Linked DNA regions of Homo sapiens. The protein of the gene in region 2 interacts with the protein of the main gene of each other region in a biochemical or structural test. Each region holds a gene or a part of one and is shown on either strand. Other genes may lie near its edges.

Region 1 (7,000 bases), on a different chromosome or scaffold from region 2:
TCCTAGATGAATAAATAAAAACTAACTTTATTAAAATCTCCACCTTTGATATCTGTCTTTTAAATATTCTTTGTGGCCGGGCGCGGTGGCTCACGCCTGTAATCCCAGCACTCTGGGAGGCTGAGGTGGGCAGATCATGAGGTCAGGAGTTCGAGACCGGCCTGACCAATATGGTGAAACCCCATCTCTACTAAAAAAATACAAAAATTAGCCGGGCATTGGGGTGCGCGCCTGTGGTCCCAGCTACTTGGGAGGCTGAGGCAGAAGAATCACTTGAACCCACGAGGCGGAGGTTGCAGTGAGCCGAGATCACACCACTGCACTCTAGCCTGGGTGACAGAGTGAGACTTCATCTCAAAACAAAACAAAACAAAACAAAAAAGAACTGGCTGGGCACAGTGGCTCATGCCTTTAATCCCAGCACTTTGGGAGGCCAAGGCAGGAATGAATGGCTCGAGCTCAGGAGTTTGAGACCAGCCTGGACAACACAGGGAGACCTGATCTCTACAACAAGTTAAAAAATGAGGTGGGCATGATGGTGCATGCATGTAGTCTTAGCTACTTGGGAGGCTGAGATGAAAGGATCACTTGAGCCTGGAAGTCAAGGCTAGATACAGTGAGCCAAGACTGTGCCACCGCACTCAAGCCTGGGCAAGAGTGAGACCCCATATCAAAAAAAAAAAAAAAAAAAAAAAAGGCTGGGTGTGGTGGCTCATGCCTATAATCCCAGTAATTTGGGAGGCTGAGGCAGATGGATCACTTGAGGCCAGGAATTCAAGACCAGCCTGGTCGATGTAGCAAGATCACAAGACACCATCTTTACAAAAAATTTTAAAATGAGCTGGGCATGGTAGCACATACCTGTAGTCCTAGCTACTCTGGACGCTGAGGCAGGAGGATTACTTGAGCCCAGAAGTTGGAGGCTGCAAGTGAGCTATGACTGCACCACTGCACTCCAGCCTGGGTGACTGAGGGAGATGCTATCTCAGACAAAATCAAACAAAAGAACCAACAGTATGTTACCAATGATAAAAATCAAACTTTCAAGAGAAAACTCAAATTTAGAAAACGTGTATTGACCACTGTGAGCCCGACAGCTTCCCAATACTTAAAGACTTTTTAAAAATGAGATCAGTGGTGATATTAACGAATGTCACCCGCCCGGCCTATTATAACTTCTAACATGGTAAACATAAGCCCTTGGGGTCTTCAATAATTTTTAAGAATCTAAAGGGACTGGCGCAGTGGCTCACATCTGTAATCCCAGCACTTTGGGAGGCCGACGCGGGTGAATCACGAGGTCAGGAGATTGAGACCATCCTGGCTAACATGGTGAAACCCCGTCTCTACTAAAAACACAAAAAATTAGCTGGGCGTGGTGGCGGGCACCTGTAGTCCCAGCTACTCGGGAGGCTGAGGCAGGAGAATGGCATGAACCCGGGAGGCGGGGCTTGCAGTAAGCCGAGATTGTGCCACTGCACTCCAGCCTGGGTGACAGAGAGAGACTCCGTCTCAAAAAACAAAAACAAACAAACAAACAAAAAAAGAATCTAAAGGGATCTTGAGGCCAAAAAGTTTGAGAATGCTGTTTTATAATATTCTAAAGTTGACTTCAAAATAAGCCATCTTTCGCCCAGGCGCGGTGGCTCATGCCTGTAATCCCAGCACTTTGGGAGACCGAGGTGGGCAGATCACCTGAGGTCAGGAGTTCAAGACCAGCCTGACCAACATGGTGAAACCCCATCTCTACTAAAAACACAAAAAATTAGCCAGGCATGGTGACACATGCCTGTAATCCCAGCTACTTGGGAGACTGAGGCAGGAGAACTGCTCGAACACGGGAGGCAGAGGCTGCAGTGAGCCAACATCACGCCACGCCACTGCACTCCATCCTGGGCAACAGAGCAAAACTCTGTCTCAGAGAAAAAAAAAAAAAAAAAAAAAAGACACATAGACCAATGGAACAGAATAGAGAACCCAGAAACAAATCCACACATCTACAGTGAACTCACTTTTGACAAAGGTGCCAAGAACATACACTGAGGAAAAGACAGTCTCTTCAATAAATGGTGCTTGGAAAACTGGATATTCATATGGAGATGAATGAAACTAGACCCCTACCTCTTGCCATCCACAAAAACCAAATCAAAATAAAGACTTAAATCTGAGACTTCAAACCATGAAAGTACTACAAGAAAACAGGAGAAAATCTCCAGGACACTGGTCTGGGCAAAAATTTCTTGAGCAATACCCCGCAAGCACAGGCAACCAAAGCAAAAATGGTCAAATGGGATCACATCACATTAAACAGTTTCTGCACAGCAAAGGAAACAATCAACAAAGTGAAGAGACAACCCACAGAATGAGAGAAAATATTTGCAAACTACCCATTTCACAAGGGGTTAATAACAAGAATATATAACGAGCTCAAACAACTCTATAGGAAAAAAACGAATAATCTAATAAAAGGATGGGCAAAAGATTTTAATAGACATTTCTCAAAAGAAGACATACAAGGCCGGGTGTGGTAGCTCATGCCTGTAATCCCAACATTTTGGGAGGCTGAGGCAGGCAGATCACTTGAGGTCAGGAGTTCGAGACCAGCCTGGCCAACATGACAAAACCCCATCTCTACTAAAAATACAAAAATTAGCTGGGCGTGGTGGCGGGCGCCTGTAATCTGAGCTACTTGGGAGGCTGAGGCAGGAGAATCGCTTGAACCCAGGAGGTGGAGGTTACAGGGAGCCAAGATTGTGCCATTGCTCTCCAGCCTGGGTGACAAGAGCAAGATTCCATCTCAAAAAAACAAAAAAGAAAAGAAAAAAAGAAATATACACCTACTACTATGTACCCATTAAATTAAAAAAAAACAAAAACAAACAAAAAAAAAACTTAGCCAGGCACAGTGGTGTGCACCTGTAGTCCCAGCTACTTGGGAGGCTGTGGTGAGAGGACTGCCTAGGGAGGCCAAGCTTATCCAACCCATGGCCCATGACTGCATGCAGCCCAGGAGAGCTCTGAATGCATCCCAACGCAAATACGTAAACTTTATTAAAACATGAGATTCTTTTGCCATTTTTATTTTTAGCTCATCACTATTGTTAGTGTTAGTGTATTTTATGTATAGCCCAAGATAATAATTCTTCTTCCAATGTGGCCCAGGGATGCCAAAAGATTGGACACACCCCTGGTCCTAGGTGATATAGCAGTACCCAATCAAGAAAGAAAGAAGAGGCCGGGCGCGGTGGCTCACGCCTGTAATCCCAGCACTTTGGGAGGCCGAGGCCGGTGGATCACGAGGTCAGGAGATCGAGACCATCTTGGCTAACACGGTGAAACCCCGTCTCTACTAAAAATACAAAAAATTAGCCGGGCGTGGTGGCGGGCGCCTGTAGTCCCAGCTACTCAGGAGGCTTAGGCAGGAGAATGGTGTGAACCCAGGAGGCAGAGCTTGCAGTGAGCCTAGATCGCGCCACTGCACTCCAGCCTGGGTGACAGAGCGAGACTCCGTCTCAAAAAAAAAAAAAAAAAGAAAGGAGAAGAGAAGTTCCTACCTGCGACTGGGAGCTCAAGGCTCAGGGATGAACTGGACAACTGACCCCTGGAAATGCACGTACAATTGCTGCCACTGGGCCTGGCTGCTGCTAAAGCAAATGGCAAAGCAAATCAGTTCAACTCAGTAGCTCTCCCCGCTCAGGAGGTACTTTGACCTCTTCCCTCTTGGGGAACCTCAGAAGTCTCTGAAACTCCCCCCTTCTTCCTCCCTCACATTCCCTTCAGAGGAAAGCACTTGGTATGGGTTTGAAAGCAGGAGGGCCCCCCACCCAGGACCTTCCTGAAAGATCTACAAACAACCTGACCCCCACAGACAGAGAGACACAGGGACTCACCACCCTGTCTGACAACAGGAAAACCTGCAGGGTGTTAAAGGCAGAGAAGGGGAAGTGAAGCCCACAAACAGCTACTGGAACCACTGAACTTCAGAGATTAAAACAAATCAGGCAGGAGGCCCACGTTTCCCCGGCCCCCAGCAGGGACCCACAACAACCCAGCCTTCCAAATAGGACAATGAACATTGTATTCCCTGGAGCTCCACTTCTGAGAGTTTATAAAACCTGCCAGGCATCCTGAGAACATGGAAACAGCAATGGGAACCCAGAGCATTGTTCAGACTCTTGGTGAGAACCTCCTACCCCTGCAGAGATGGAAGAAACAATTCTGTGTGTTATGGCCAGCTCTCATATATACCAGCAAACCACAGACCCATGAGGCAGAGATTGGATCTGTTTTTTACTATTATCATTTCCCAAGTGCCTGGCACATAGTTGGCACTTAAAAATATTTGTTCCCGGCTGGGCACAGTGGCTCACATCTGTAATCCCAGCACTCTGGGAGGCTGAGGCGGGTAGATCATCTGACATCAGGAGTTTGAGACCAGTCTGGCTAACATGGTGAAACCCCGTCTCTACTAAAAATACAAAATTTAGCCAGATGTGGTGGCGCATGCCTGTAATCTCAGCTACTCAGGAGGCTGAGGTAGGAGAATCGCTTGAACCTAAGAGGCGGAGGTTGCAGTGAGCCGAGATCACGGCATTGCACTCCAGCCTGGACAACAAGAGCGAAACTCCATCTCAAAAAAAAAAAAAAAAGGCCAGGTGCGGTGGCTCACGCCTGTAATCCCAGCACTTTGGGAGGCTGAGGCGGGCGGATCACCTGAGGTCAGGAGTTCCAGACCAGCCTGGCCAACATGGTGAAACCCCATCTCTACTAAAAATACAAAAATTAGCCGGGCGTGGTGGCAGGTGCCTATAATCCCAGCTACTTGGGAGGCTGAGACAGGAGAAGCACTTGAACCCAGGAGAAGGAGGTGGCAGTGAGCCAAGATCACGCCATTGCACTCCAGTCTGGGGGACAAGAGCAAGACTTCGTCTCAAAAACAAACAAACAAACAAAATATATATATATATATATATTTGCCCCCTAATAAGAGAGAATGATGGACACCATCTTTGTGGCCTGGCACCCTAGGTACCCATATAGGCAAAGACGAAAGTTCGTTCATTTACTCATTCAACAAAAATTTATTCATTATCTCCTCTGTGCCAGGCACTATCCTAGACACAACAGGCAGCAAAACAACTCCCTGCCCTGTGGAGTTTATCTTTTAATGGGCGCAAAGGTGGGAATCTCCATGCTCCTGAAAAAACTATGTAAGCCATAGACTTTCAATAATTACTTAATAAATGCCTATACTATGCATAAGCAACTGGTACCAGATGCTGTGACAGGAACCTGGAATCTGGGAATAAGCCCTAGTGAAATTATTTCATCTTCAAGGTCAGGATCTTAAATCTGGATCCTGTGTCAGTGGTGGTCAGAGACCCCTGAGTAAAGAAAATGGGATTACCTCGTTGGTGCATCTGTCTTCATCTGTTGGTGAGCAGAAGCCACTGTGTGAGTATCACGTGCATGCCCAAAACACTGTACAACACTGCAGGATAGAAAAAACCCCAACAGCTTTAGCTGACAGGTGCCAGGGGCCCTCAAAGCAACTCTAATAAGTTATACCCACCGTAACTCAAAGAGTGTTCCTAAGGTAATCTGGCTCCTCGTCGGTCCCTTACACACCACCCTGAGATGTGATTCTGAGCCTGAGTCAGCAAATATTTCCCCAATCCTGGAAGGAGTCTGCTCACTCCCAAGTAAGCAGACACTGGCTTTGCTGATTTTATCAGGTCGGCGCAGAAGGCGCAGGCAAGGTAAGAAGGGAGCTGGGTAGAAGCTCATAAATGAAGATGTCCTGAGTCATAGTTGATGCCTTCACCAAAGCCCCTGCAGAATGAACTGGAGTCACATGCCAATCACCAGCCTGCTGAGTTATGAAGGCTAGGAGCCATCTGCCAAGGAAGAAGACCCATATGTCTGAAACCTGATGCAAGGGGCCATGTTCTCCCTGCCAGGCTCAAGGCAAGCTCCAAGGGCTCCTCTGACACCCTGGAATCCAGCTGTTGCAAGCAGCTCCTCACCCTGGCTCCAACGGCAGAGAAAAATGTGCATGGACACCAAACCATCTCCAAGAAGCAGCCATTAGGTAATCTGGGACATGGCATTGACAATGGCACCGGGCACAGGGCTTCTGACATCATATAAGCAAGGGCCTGGCAGAACGGACAAAGCCCACAGAGACCTGGGTAGGGAGGAAGAGAATGTTTCCAGTGTGGGCAATGCTGAGCAGTAAAGCTGTGTCCTGCAATTTCCAAGCCCTTCAGAGGCACTGGAGCAAGGCACCACTGTTCAGCTTCCCAGCCTGCAGAGAGCACTCAGGGAGGTGGGCCTCAGGGACAGGATATAGCTGAAGCCCTTAGAAGTGACAGGTCCAGGCTGGTTGTGGTGGCTCACGCCTGTAATCCCAGCACTTTGGGAGGCTGAGGCGGGCAGATCACGAGGTCAGGAAATCGAGACCATCTCGACTAACACGGTGAAACCCTGTCTCTACTAAAACTACAAAAAAAAATGAGCCAGGCGTGGTGGCGGGCGCCTGTAGTCCCAGCTACTCAGGAGGCTGAGGCAGAAGAATGGCGTGAACCTGGGAGATGGAGCTTGCAGTGAGCCAAGATCGCACCACTGCACTCCAGCCTGGGCGACAGAGCGAGACTCCATCTCAAAAAAAAAAAAAAAAAAAACGAAAAAAAAGTGACAGGTCCAACTCCTGAGAGAGAGGAGCTGCACTATCCCAGGATGTGCCAGAATCTGCAGGCCCTGAAGACAGCTTGCACAACAGTCAGGACAGCTGTAGGCCCAAAGCAGAGGCCTAATGGCTTCCCAGGCTAGTGCTCTACACTGTCTATCCTCTTACCAGGCCCTAAGGGAAGGCGTCTAAGGGACCACAGGTCGGGTTGAAAGGCTGAGTAGGAGCAATTCTTCCTGAATGGGTTAAGGCATATATCACACAAGAAGGCCATGGTGAAGAGGCAAGGAGAAAGGCACCTGAACGAGCAGT
Region 2 (7,349 bases):
AAAAAGGCCAGGCACAGTGGCTCATGCCTGTAATCCCAGCACTTTGGGAGGCTGAGGTGGGCAGATTACCTGAGGTCAGGAATTCAAGACCAGCCTGGACAACATGGTGAAACCTCGTCTCTACAAAAATACAAAAATTCGTAGGGCATGATGGCGGATAGCATGTAATCCCAGCTACTCAGGAAGCTGAAGCGGAAGAATCGCTTGAACCTGGGGGGCAGAAGTTGCAGTGAGCTGAGATCATGCCATTGCACTCCAGCCTGGGCGACAGAGCGAGACTCCCTCTCAAAATAAAAGGAAACTCCATAACCACTAGTAGTCATTTCCCATTTCTCCTCCCCTCCCCTATGTCTATTCCACTTCTCTGCCCCAGGCAATCACTTATCTACCTTCTGTCTCTATATATTTGTATATTCTGAACACATTTTATATTCCTCTACATGTGTTATTTCTTTTCTTACACAACCCAGTGAGGTAGGTACCATTGCAATCTCCACTATACAGAAGTGGAAACTGAGTCACGAAGAGGTTAAGTACCCTGACCAAAGTTATATGGCTAGTAAGTAGCTCAGCCAGGCTTTATTTATTTATTTATTTGAGACAGAGTCTCACTCCATCACCCAGGCCAGAATGCAGTGGTGCAATCTTGGCTCGCTGTATCCTCTGCCTCCTGGGTTCAACTGATTCTCATGCCTCAGCCTGCCAAGTAGCTGGGACTACAGGCGTTCACCACCATGCCCGGCTAATTTTTCGTATTTTTGGTAGAGATGGGGTTTCATTATGTTGGCCAGTCTGGTGTCGAACTCCTGCCTTCAACTGATCCACCCACCCTGGCCTCCCAAAGTGCTGGGATTATAGGGGTGAGCCACCGCACCCGGCCTCAGCCAAGGTTTAAACCCAGAATTTAAATTCTAGGTGAATAGCTATGTTTTCTTTCCTGGGAATGCAAAATTTGATATTGATCTCTAGACAACGAATTAAGAAATAGATATAGCTTTGGCGATGTAATGATGTCATTCACTATGTGCAGAATTCATGCTTTTAATCCACTATGAAGGAGACAAAGGTCCTTAGAATCTAACATGATCATGATGTATAAGATACATGCAGAAATACTGATAGTAGATACCGCTCTATGCAGGAGACACAGCATCACACAGTTCAGGGGTGGAAGAGCACCTGGAAAGTATGAGCAATCAAGGATTTTTTTCTGTAGTAGTTAGCTTCTCAGTTGGCACTTAGAGAATGTGGCAGAAATTGCGAGCTGGGGTAATATGTGTTCCAGGTTAGGAAACAAAGGCCTAGAGGTAGGAATGAACAGGTTGTTTCTCCGATCCAGTGTGGCTTGAATGTAACATTCTCAGTCAGTGTATCACTTCCCATTTCGTGACATTAGCTACCGTTTATTTCTGTCTTTTAACGTCAAGCTCTTGACAGGTATTATTTCTAATCTTTAAGACAACCCTACAGGGTAGATATCATTAGCCTTGATATAGACAAGAAGATTGAGGTTCTTGAGGGGTCATAAGGCAAGTAAGTGATAGAGCCAAGATTTGAATAAGTGTCTTTCTGATGTCACATTCCTGCCCTTTCTACTTTATTGTGCTGTCTTACTTAAGGGAGATGGAAAGTTAGGTTGGTGCCATACTGAGAAAAGCCTTGATGGCTGAGGCGAAAAGTTTTTACTTACCTTGGCAGGTAGAGACATGATAGAGACAAAACTCAAGCTGAACTGTGGAAATACTACTATAATCATTTGGGCAGTAGAAATGACAGTCTAAATTAGGAAGGCAGTGGTGCAATCAGACAAAAGGGAAGTACATATAAGAAATATGCATCAGTGGTATTTAGAGACTTCATAACTGGGTGGGAGCAAGGCGTACAGAGGAGTATATAATATTTCTGAAACTTTGGTTCTCTTAGTTCTCAGAAGAGTGTTCTGTGACGGCCATGAACAGAAATACAGAGGAAACGAGGAGGAGCTGGCTTTGTGAGACTGAGGGAGGAAAAATGATAACCTTAATATGGGAGCTGAAGGTGCTGGTGACTTCTGTATCTATGTGAAGATGGGTAACGGGTAATTGGAGATTTAGTCTAGGGCCAAGATCCAGTTATCCAAAGAGTGGTGAGAGTCAAGGCCACAGTAATCAACAAAGAATATAAAGAAAAATGCAATCTTAGTGTCTACTAAAAAGTAGGAGAAACAAGGGAGCCATATTGAATACCTATTACCGGCCTAACACTGCGGAGACGTCTGGGAAGGGCCACAAACCTTTCCACAGTAAACCTCCAATCTTGTTCCAGAGATTAATTACTCTCATGAAACTATATGCAACTAGTACAAAACTTGATAGATTCAGGGCCAATCTGTAGGGTAAACACAAGAGTAACGGGATATTAGAAAAGAAAGACATTGATGTGCTTGGGGAATTTAGGAGGCGAGGAGAAGACAGACCAACACAAGGTATAAGAAGTAGAAATTGTGCATAGGCTGATACCAGGGTAACCCTGCTCTGAGCACAGTGACAGAACTTTGGTGTCTTCTCTGTTGTCAAGGGGATAGCATGGGGCTGAAAAAGTATAAACAGGCTTTGGGGCAAAGCAGATCCCAAAGCTTACAGCTCCCTTTTATTGATGGTATAAAATTGGGCAAATTACTTAGCTTTTTCAGTACTTGTTTCTTTTTCTTTCTTTCTTTCTTTTTTTTTATTTTTTTGAGATGGAGTCTCACTCTGTTGCCCAGGCTGGAGTGCAGTGGTGCGATCCCGGCTCACTGCAACCTCCGCCTCGCAGGTTCAAGCGATACTCCTGCCTCCGCCTCCCGAGTAGCTGGGATTACAGGCACCCGCCACCACGCCCGGCTAATTTTTGTATTTTTAGTAGAGACGGGGTTTCACCATCTTGGCCAGGCTGGTCTTGTACTCCTGACCTCGTGATCCACCCGCCTCGGCCCCGCAAAGTGCTGAGATTACAGGCGTGAGCCACTGTGACCGGCCAGTACGTGTTTCTTCGTTTTAAAAAAGTGAGTATATTTAATAAGGTGGTTGTTTACATTCAGTAAAATAGCGCATGAAAAGCATCTAACACAGGGCTTTAAACAGCAAGACTGGGCAAAACCTAAATAACATTTTCCTTATGTTGTCTTTTTTGCTACCACTTGCACCATACGATTACCCACATTTCCTGTCCCCTCCAGTGCAGCTTCCTGGAGACACTTCACACGTATGCAGGACTTCTGTACATCCTACTCAGGCACAGCTGTAGGCCCTACAAAGAGGGACCATTTACTGCCTCCTGCTGTCATTGATATTCGACAAACATTTATTGAGCACCTACAATGTCCTAGTTACTGTGCTAGGCCATTTTGGGGTATAGAGAGATAAAACAGATCTTAAAGTCTTCACGACACTTAAAGATGAGAAACAGTCTCTGGGTAAATAACTATCGGAGTTCAGAAGGTGGACAGAAGTGGTGGGCGGCGAGTCTGTGTGCAGTGAGCACCTAGCGGAAGATGGCATTATTTGCAGAAGAGAGGTCCTTTAAGCCAAGTCTTGATAGATGATTTCACCACGCGGAGATTGGGAAACGAGGACAAAGATATGAGAAGATATGTTGGCCACAGAGAGCCTCTCAAAGCACTGTTAAAGCAAAGCCAATACTTAATGGGAGGAAACTCCGTTTTACTTGCGTGGAGTCTTAAGTCATTAGATGCATGCTAAACAGAACTGTAACCCTCGCGAATAAAACGGCCACAGTGACAGCAGTGGGTAACGGCAGAGCTGCAACTACTCTGACAGGGGTGACGACTTATTTGGACGACAGTTGGTGAAACATTGTAAACTCTCAGAAGCTGCCGTTTCCAGACTTTGAGTTCATTCTTGTCGAATCCCCAGCTTGTTTTCTCAGCCCGGGGTGAAATGCGCAGCCAAAAGGCCCAATGAGCGTCAAAGCGAAAGGGCAGGGGTGGTCTCTTCTGCGGATATACCTTGGCTCCTCCCAAGTCCTACGAGTTTAAACTTCGACGCACCAAACATGGCTTCTTCGCGGTTCTGCTCCTTGTTTTATTTCGCTCCCACCTTTCGGCCACACTCAACATGGCCCTAACCGAAGGTTGGCATGCCTGTGGCACTGTCTCGGGACAGTTCTCGCGAGGTTTGCCTGGGCCCGACTGCTCCCGCCCTGCCTCGCGCCGCCGCCACAGCCGCTGCCGCTGGCGCCGCTCCTCCTCCGTGTCAGTTGTTGGGCTGTAATGGCGACTGGGCCGCCCCTGACGAAGTGACTCCCGGGCCGGGGAGCGGGGCCAGACCTGCGCCAGAGAGAACTGCAGGGAGCCGCAGCTCGGGGGGTGGCTTGCCCTGAGGGAGGGGAGGCAGCCTTTCCGCCTTGTCTTCCTTCCCAGCGGACCGGCGGATCCCCGGAGCCGGTGCGAGGAGGGCACCCGGTGCGTCCCCGGAGCGGGGAGGCCAGGCCGGGCAGCCCTGGGGCCGGTCGGGGCGGCGTCACTGCACCCTCCGCCAGGCTCCGCGGGATGCACCGTGGTAGCCGAGGGCGGAGGCGACACTCTCAGGTGAGCTCCTGTAGGACCTGGCTGGGACCGCGGAGTCTCGCTCAGCCTCAACTGTCTCTGTCCGCGGTCCCGGGTCCCCGGTGGCGGCAAGAGAGGCGGGGCCGGGCGCGGAGAGTCTTGGCCCTGCTTGGCGTCCCCCTCGGGGAACCTCCCTGGGTTCTGAGGCTTTTCGGGGACCTAGGTTTCGGGTCCCACCAGTGCCTGCTGAAGACGGAATTTCCTTCCTTACGTGCCAGTGTCCTCCCGCCTCCTCCACCCCTCCTCTAGCCTGCAGAGGTAAGATACCTCTAGCCTTTGCTGCCCGGAGAAGTGTCCCTTCTTCATCTGGCGATCAGGCGTATTTGGGGAGATTCCGGGGACTGGCTCCAGTGGCAGGGATGATCAGTTTCTGTTCCTTTTCAGTGGGGATCACATTCTCAAGTATAGGGAAAACTTTGATCTACTCTAGTCTAGCGGCTGCTGAAGGTAGTTTATTCACAGATAATTTGGGGAAAGATTTAAAAGGCTTTATGTTTTGGAAGTTGTCAGTATTTTCCTCTGCCTTTTAAATGCAGCTCAACATGCTAAGTAATATTTAGCTAATGTCACAAGATATGAATTGGAATTTGCCTGGATTTTAAATATTCAGATAGAAAGTTGCACATAGGCATAGATTTTAATGTTTTAATGCAGTAGCAAATCCTTCATATGGGAAAAAACAGGTTGTCAGAAATAGTGATCAATATCCATGTACTCCACCTGATTGTTTTGTTTTGATGGTGATCCTTGTTTTGAATTTGGGGAAGTCGTTATTGTTGCCATGTTAACGATACCTCCTGCCCTGTATTTGAAGAGTTTTAAAAGAAAGACTATCTTTGGCAGAGCTAGTAACAATCTGAAAAGTTCTGTAGAAACAATGATAAAATACTAAAAGTTGCCCTCCATTCTGAAAATTTCTTCGTTTAATATATTGTTTTTAAACAAGGAAATGCACTGCTAATGACATGGAATTGTGACTTTGAGGGATTGTTAGACCCATGCTGGAAGTTGCTTCAAAGCCATGGGCGTATAATAATTAGTTTCGGTGTGCTAAATTGACAAATTTTATTTAATGTAATGAAATAAATCTGAATCATTTGAACTGTCAGTGCATTAAATTTAAGATACTGTAATCTGAAAATAAACTTCAAGCTAGAATACATTGTATATGTGGATAAATACATGTGTATCTCTGTATCTCTTCATCCTCAGTAGCAAAATTTTGTGTATGTAGAGATGGCAAGTTGTATATGTAAAAAATTTCATACGTATGTGAACATATTTCTTTGATTTTCTGAGATAAATTGGTGTGTGTGTCATGTAAGAGCGTTAATACTTAAACAGCCAACCTTCTGTGGGGCAATCAATTTATGAATTATAAAGTTTTTGGATTTTTTCCTTCTGCTTCTGATTGTCAGTCTTTTGCCCATTTTATAACACTTCTACCATATATGAGCAGAAGAAAGGAGATGAAGTACTGCTATAATCAATTTTATTTGTTAAATTGCTATAATTTATAGTGGGAGCAAAAAAGAAGTCTAAAATAACTGACATCAGTTTTTGGTGTGCTTCTATATACATTATTTTATTTAGTTTTCACAGTGATCTTGTGAAGTAGGTATGGCAGATATCCTTATTTTGCAGTCGTGGAAACTGACACACAAGGAAGATCATTTATGTGAATGCCTCTCATTTCTGCAGATAATGTGGAATTATTTTTATTTTAAACTAAATATTAATATAGGTGCTCTGGCATTTGGTGTTATTTTAAAATATTAAAAAATTATTCTATTTTTGTTCCTTTTTACATGCCACTTGCCCCTTATGCTGATGATCGTCAGTTCTTTAAAAACATTAGTATTTTTATAACGTTTTGTTAATTATTGACAAGTCATGAATTATGATGGATCACTTACTTCTTTATGTATATACTTTTTGCTTGAACAAGATTATTAAAGTGTAGTTCATTTATTATCTTTCACTTTGGATACTCAGTTCTGTCATCTTTATTCTTTCAGTCATTTATACTCTTAGTTATGTAAAACAAACATTCAAGCCACATGATCAGTAACATAACTGAAAAGTAGTAATATCTTGATGATTTTATTGTTGAGACAACTGATGATTTAAAAAGTTAATTCTCTGCATATAATTGTGATTGTTATTTTTGCAACATGAGGCAAATTTTAGTGTTATAGTGTAAAAAAATCATCAGATTGCATAGTATTTTTTTCTGTATTGATTTGTTGTTGTTGTTGTTCATTGTTATCATAAGTGTGATTTTACATTTACTTGTGGTTATTTTGAGTTATTCTTTGCCTTTCTCATCTGGTCTGTAAGTTCCATGATGGCAGAGATCCTTTAATCACTATTATGCACCCAGTGCCTAGCATATGGTAACATAGTCAATAAATACTAATTGAAGAAATTGACTAAAGAATAGTCCCAGAATAATATTTTAAATGCAAAACAAAACAAAAGACTAGTTCTTAGTTCCTAAGCACACCTCAACTCTTGGGAATATATTCCAGAGATATGCTCAGATTTGCTGGGTAGCAAGGGAATGACAGCCTGGGATTAAAAAGCCACTGGGAATAAGCCACAGTGGAAACTTCATTTACTATTTTAATGATTTGCCTAGGTGCTCTGGCAACAGGTTACGGTAATTTAAAGAAAATATAAACTTTAAGACCCTAACCTGTTATACTAGTACTATAATTATAGCCTTGTAATAACTTTAAGTCACTTCTTAATCTCAGTATTG

The links.
Region 1: the proteins of CEP350 (region 2) and PPARD form a complex in vitro, tested with the Homo sapiens proteins (one study listed by BioGRID).

The regions. Positions count from the first base shown.
Region 1 is NC_000006.12:35,345,558-35,352,557, reverse strand, and holds part of PPARD (peroxisome proliferator-activated receptor delta), read right to left. Parts: intron 5,492-7,000; 5' UTR 5,421-5,491; coding exon of another isoform or gene 5,408-5,420; intron 4,196-5,407; exon of another isoform or gene 3,555-4,195; intron 981-3,554; exon of another isoform or gene 862-980; intron 1-861. UniProt on the Homo sapiens protein: Ligand-activated transcription factor key mediator of energy metabolism in adipose tissues. Receptor that binds peroxisome proliferators such as hypolipidemic drugs and fatty acids.
Region 2 is NC_000001.11:179,950,576-179,957,924, forward strand, and holds the start of CEP350 (centrosome-associated protein 350), read left to right. Parts: upstream 1-4,234; 5' UTR 4,235-4,528; coding exon of another isoform or gene 4,529-4,567; intron 4,568-4,646; exon of another isoform or gene 4,647-4,843; intron 4,844-7,349. UniProt on the Homo sapiens protein: Plays an essential role in centriole growth by stabilizing a procentriolar seed composed of at least, SASS6 and CPAP. Required for anchoring microtubules to the centrosomes and for the integrity of the microtubule network.